2 separate regions of the Homo sapiens genome follow, and region 2 is linked to region 1. A link means that fine-mapping ties the variant in region 1 to the expression of a gene that starts in the linked region. Tissue or cell type: whole blood. Region 1 holds a variant in brackets; the other region holds the start of a gene. All regions are shown on one strand. Distances are from middle to middle.

Evidence for each region. PIP is the estimated chance that this variant, and not a neighbour inherited with it, causes the effect.
Region 2: it holds the start of DHTKD1, and the variant in region 1 is fine-mapped to the expression of DHTKD1 in whole blood (INTERVAL, PIP above 0.99).

Annotation. Positions count from the first base shown.
Region 1 is chr10:12,117,174-12,120,017 of GRCh38, forward strand. It overlaps DHTKD1 (dehydrogenase E1 and transketolase domain containing 1), which reads left to right. Exons shown (of 17, transcript NM_018706.7): 14 at 500-582; 15 at 1,576-1,745. Among named protein-coding and RNA genes, the nearest start is that of SEC61A2, 11 kb to the right of the region's middle. The variant T/C (reference allele first, on the strand shown) is at 1,430.
Region 2 is chr10:12,067,930-12,070,429 of GRCh38, forward strand. DHTKD1 (dehydrogenase E1 and transketolase domain containing 1) reads left to right here and starts at 1,025. Exons shown (of 17, transcript NM_018706.7): 1 at 1,025-1,258. The coding sequence starts at 1,105. RefSeq lists silencers at 1,051-1,100, 1,201-1,360.

The sequences.
Region 1 (2,844 bases):
TGTATTTTTATATTTTTGTAGAGATGGGATTTCACCATGTTGGCCAGGCTGGTCTCAAACTCCTGACCTCAGGTGATCCGCCCACCTTGGCCTCCCAAAGTGCTGGGATTACAGGCATGAGCCACGGCACCTTTTTTTTTTTTTTTTTTTTTTTTAATAGAGGCAAGGCACCAGTGGGGATGGTGGAGTAGGGGGTGCAAAGGGAGTCTCGCTATGTTGCCCAGGCGGGTCTTGAACTGGCCTCCAGCGATCCTCCTGCCTTGGCCTCCCAAAGTGTTAAGATTCCAAAAGGCTATCTTATGTAACCTCAGAAACATAGTTTTACCCTGAAGTATACAGAACTGATATTTTTTGGCAAGGCATTGCGTCTATTAGGACATGGGTCTCCTTGCAGTGCTAGGCTAGAACTTTGGTACTCGTGTTTGATAGCGGCCCTTGTAAGTGACAGCATCACCTCTTTCTGTTGCTTGCTGGATGTGTGGCCTCTTCTCCCTCGTAGGCAGCCGTGTCAACTCTTCAAGAAATGGCACCAGGAACAACATTTAACCCGGTCATTGGTGATTCATCTGTGGATCCAAAAAAGTAAGATATGTATCTCTGTTTTCATATTCTGTGGCAGAATTTTAATTAATGGGAAAAGTAGTTCACATTAAGAGATCACAGGTGATGCAGATCTCCCCTCTCCTATTTTTATTTATTTATTTATTTATTTATTTATTTATTTATTTATTTTTGAGACTGAGTCTGGCTCTATTGCCCAGGCTGGAGGGCAGTGGTGCAATCTCAGCTCTATGCAACCTCCGCCTCCCGGATTCAAGTGATTCTTGTGCTTCAGCCTCCCAAGTAGCTGGGATTACAGGTGCCCGCCACCACACCCTGCTAATTTTTTTATTTTTAGTAGAGATGGGGTTTCACCATGTTGGCCAGGCTGGTCTCGAACTCCTGACCTCAGGTTATCCACCCACCTCAGCCTCTGAAAGTGCTGGGATTGCAGGCGTGAGCCACCATGCCTGGCCTCCTCTATCCTAAGTCCTTTAAGTCAGTGGAGTATGAGTTAAGTGTGGGTGGGAAAGTGGACTTTGTAGGCGCATGTTGCTGAAGAAGGGTCCCCAGGAATAGCCTGTGACTGAACTCGGCTGCAGAGACCCCCACCACCTTGTTCATGAGGACTTTAAATCTGCACTGTCTCCCGTTTCTTCTGACATAATTCTCTTTTTTTTTTTTTTTGAGGTTGAGTCTTGCTCTGTCGCCCAGGCTGGAGTGCAGTGGCACGATCTTGGCTCACTGCAAGCTCCGCCTCCCGGGTTCACGCCATTCTCCTGCCTTAGCCTCCCGAGTAGCTGGGACTACAGGTGCCCGCCAGTACGCCCGGCTAATTTTTTGTATTTTTAGTAGAGACAGGGTTTCACCGTGTTAGCCAGGATGGTCT[T/C]GATTTCCTGACCTCGTGATCCGCCCGCCTTGGCCTCCCAAAGTGCTGAGATTACAGGCGTGAGCTACTGCACCTGGCCTCTTCTGACGTAATTCTTACTTTAAAAAATTTCTCCCCCACCCTATTGTTCCTTTTCTGTCCAACAGGGTTAAGACCCTCGTGTTCTGCTCCGGCAAACATTTCTACTCCCTGGTGAAACAAAGAGAATCTCTGGGGGCCAAGAAGCATGACTTTGCCATCATCCGAGTAGAGGAACTCTGCCCCTTCCCGTTGGATTCTTTACAGCAAGAGATGAGCAAATACAAACATGTTAAAGGTAAGAGGTTGTTCTCATTTGGGTTTTGATGTTCAGATACCCAAAACCCATTTCAGCTCTTTTAAATGAAAAGATGTGGTGGGGGTTATTAGAAAATTGAATCTTGGGCCGGGCGCGGTGGCTCACACCTGTAATCCTGGCACTTTGGGAAGCTGAGGTGGGTGGATCACAAGGTCAGGAGATTGAGACCATCCTGGCTAACACGGTGAACCCCCGTCTCTACTAAAAGTACAAAAAATTAGCCGGGCGTGGTGGCGGGCGCCTGTAGTCCCAGCTCCTTGGGAGCCTGAGGCAGAAGAATTGCTTGAACCTGGGAGACGGAGGTTGCAGTGAGCCGAGATTGTGCCACTGCACTCCAGCCTGGGCACAAGACTCTGTGTCAAAAAAAGACACAAAAACATGAAAATTTGGTACAGGCGGGGCGCGGTGCCTCACGCCTGTAGTCCCAGCACTTTGGGAGGCCGAGGTGGGCGGATCACGAGGTCAGGAGATCAAGACCATCCTGGCTAACACAGTGAAACCCCGTCTCTACTGAAAATACAAAAAAATTAGCCGGGCGTGGTGGCGGGCGCCTGTAGTCCCAGCTACTTGGGAGGCTGACGCAGGAGAATGGCGTGAACCCGGGAGGCGGAGCTTGCAGTGAGCCGAGATTGCGCTACTGCACTCCAGCCTGGGCGACAGAGCGAGACTCCGTCTCAAAAAAAAAAAAAAAAAAAAGAAAGAAAATTTGGTACATATATGGGGCCTGTCCGAGGGTCATGGGGGAGGAGGGAGAGCATCAGGCAGAACAGCTAATGGATGCTGGGTTAATACCTAGGTGATGGATGATCTGAGGAGCAAACCTCCGTGGCACACATTTACCTGCATAACAAACCTGCACATCCTGCATGTGTACCCCAGAACTTAAAAAAGAAAAAAGAAAATGCATTGAATACACCTAAACTACAAAACACAGCTTAGCCTAGCCTGCCTTAAACATGCTCAGAACACTCACATTAGCTTATCGTTGGGCACAATCATTTAACACAAAATCTATTACATTTCATAATGAAGTGTTGAATATCTCAGATAATTTATCGAATACTGTACCAACAGTGAA
Region 2 (2,500 bases), 49 kb before region 1:
TGATGGTCTCGAACTCCTGACTTCGTGATCCGCCCTCCTTGGCCTCCCAGAGGGCCTCCCAGAGTGTTGGGATTACAGGCATGAGCCACTGCAGCCTGTTTTGTTTTTTTTTTTTTGTTCGTTTGTTTGTTTGTTTTTGTTCTGTTTTTTTTGAGACGGAGTTTCGCTCTTGTTGCCCAGGCTGGAGTGCAATGGCGCCATCTCAACTCACCGCAACCTCCACCTCCCGGGTTCCAGCGATTTTCCTGTCTCAGCCTCCCGAGTAGCTGGGACCACAGGCACCCACCACTACGCCTGGCTAATTTTGTATTTTTAGTAGAGACGAGGTTTCTCCACGTTGGTAAGACTGGTCTCGAACCCCCGACCTCAGGTGATCCGCCCGCCTCGGCCTCCCAAAGTGCTGGGATTACAGGCGTGAACCACCGCGCCCGACCTAATTTTTGTATTTTTAGTAGAGATGGGTTTTCGCCATGTTGGACAGGTTGGTCTCAAACTCCTGACCTCAGATGATCCTCCCGCTGTGGCCCCCCAAAGTGTTAGGATTACAGGCGTGAGCCACCGCGCCCGGCCTCTGTTAATGTTTCTTAAGAAAACAAAAAAATTAGGGGTATTGATTTTGTAGCTGCGCTAAGTAACCTTTGCTTTTTGCGTCCCTTGGTCTCAGTCCTAGCCATTTCCTATCCACCCTGTGGCTAATTTGTCCTTTCTGTAACAGACACCCTAGACTGTGTCTATGCGGTTGGGCAGAGGCGTGATGGGTAAACACTCCTGGCGGGAGACTACAGGCGCTGCAGCTACATCCTGTTTCGTACTGGGAGCAGGTGCCGCCCCGCGGAACACTTACTTGCCCCGCCCTGCGGTGGAGCAGGGCGGTCTCAGCCGCCGGAACCGCCCTGGAAGCCCGCCCCAATCCTGGGCGTCGCTTCGCTGTGAGTGCCGCTGCCACGGATTGGCTTCCAGGGTCCGGCCCGTCGGCCAATCAGGCGCGGGGGCGTTGTCTGGGGGCGGGGCTCCGGCCGCCTCTGACGAGTCCCGGATTTACCAGGGCCGGTGGGATCCCCTCGGGCTCCCGCCTTAGCATGCTGGCCGGGACATCTGGTGAACATGGCCTCTGCTACTGCGGCAGCAGCACGACGGGGCCTCGGCCGGGCTCTCCCTCTCTTCTGGCGTGGCTACCAGACCGAGCGGGGCGTTTACGGCTACCGGCCGAGGAAGCCCGAGAGCCGCGAGCCCCAGGGCGCCCTGGAGCGCCCCCCAGGTCGGGGATGGGGCCCGGGCGGTGGGAGCGGGGGCTGGGACGCAGAAGCCTCCCCTGGCCGATTTGCGGTGGGGTGTCGGGGTCGGGGAACCGGCTGCCGGCCTGAACGCGCGGCCGGTGGGGAGGAGGGGGAGGTGAGGGGAGCAGAGGGTAGGTGTGGGTGCTCAGTGTTGGGGTCATCCCCCGTCCATCCTCTGTAACTGAGGATCTTTGAGGTCCACGCTTGGGTGGTCTTCCCATCTTGCTGGTCCGGACCTGGTTTCGGAAGGGCTTTTCTTTCCTTTGTTGGAAACGTGTGAGAAACTCTTTTTTTCTTTCTCTTTTTGTTTCCTTTTTTTTTTTTTTTTTTTTTTGAGACGGAGTCTCGCTCTGTGGCCCAGGCTGGAGTGCAGTGCTGCGACCACAGCTCCCTGCAGCCTCGAACTCCTGGGCTCAGGCTATCCTTCCACCTCAGCGTCCCGAGTAGCTGGGGACACAGAGGGATGACCACGCCCAGCTTTTTTTTTTTTTTTTTTTTTTTTTTCATTTTTAGTAGAGATGGGGTCCCACCATGTTGCCCAGGCTGGTCTTGAACTCTTGAGCTCAAGCTGATCCTGCAGCCTCGGCCTCCCAATGTGTTGGGATTACAGGCTGAGCCACTGCACCCAGCCTAGAAAACCAGCTCTTTAATGAGGCGGAGCTGTGGGAGAAGTAAAGTTTTAAGGTCTCCCAAGGATACATTTCCAGGACCATCTCTGAGGCTTCTTTTATGTGAGCAGGTGGGGGGGTCCAAGACTGCATTGCTTGGGAGAAGTGGGCAGTTAGTTCCAGTCTTGGAAGACAGCATGATATTTATTATGTATTTGTCTCCTTGTAGCTAGTCTGTTACTTTAATTTCAGAGTTTAACTCTTAACTCTGCTGAATTTGGAACTATGTGCTGGTGGGGTTTCTTTCTTTTCCTTTTAGCCACTCTATTGACACCTTGATATGTGCTGGTGGTTTTAATGAATTAACAGTCATGAATATCAGCTTTTGGAACTTCTGTTGCATGCTCATTTGCGAGACTAATTTTGAGTATTTGGTTTACGCTCCAAAATTATTGTATCATTATTTATCCTCACGGAGTAGAAGATAAGTACAGATTGCTTATTAGAGGAAAATCATTTGGCATCTTTGATCTGATCATTAGATTAATGTTGAAGATCCCCTTCGGCATCTGGGCACCTGACCTTGGAATGTTCCATCAATCACACACTAGAACT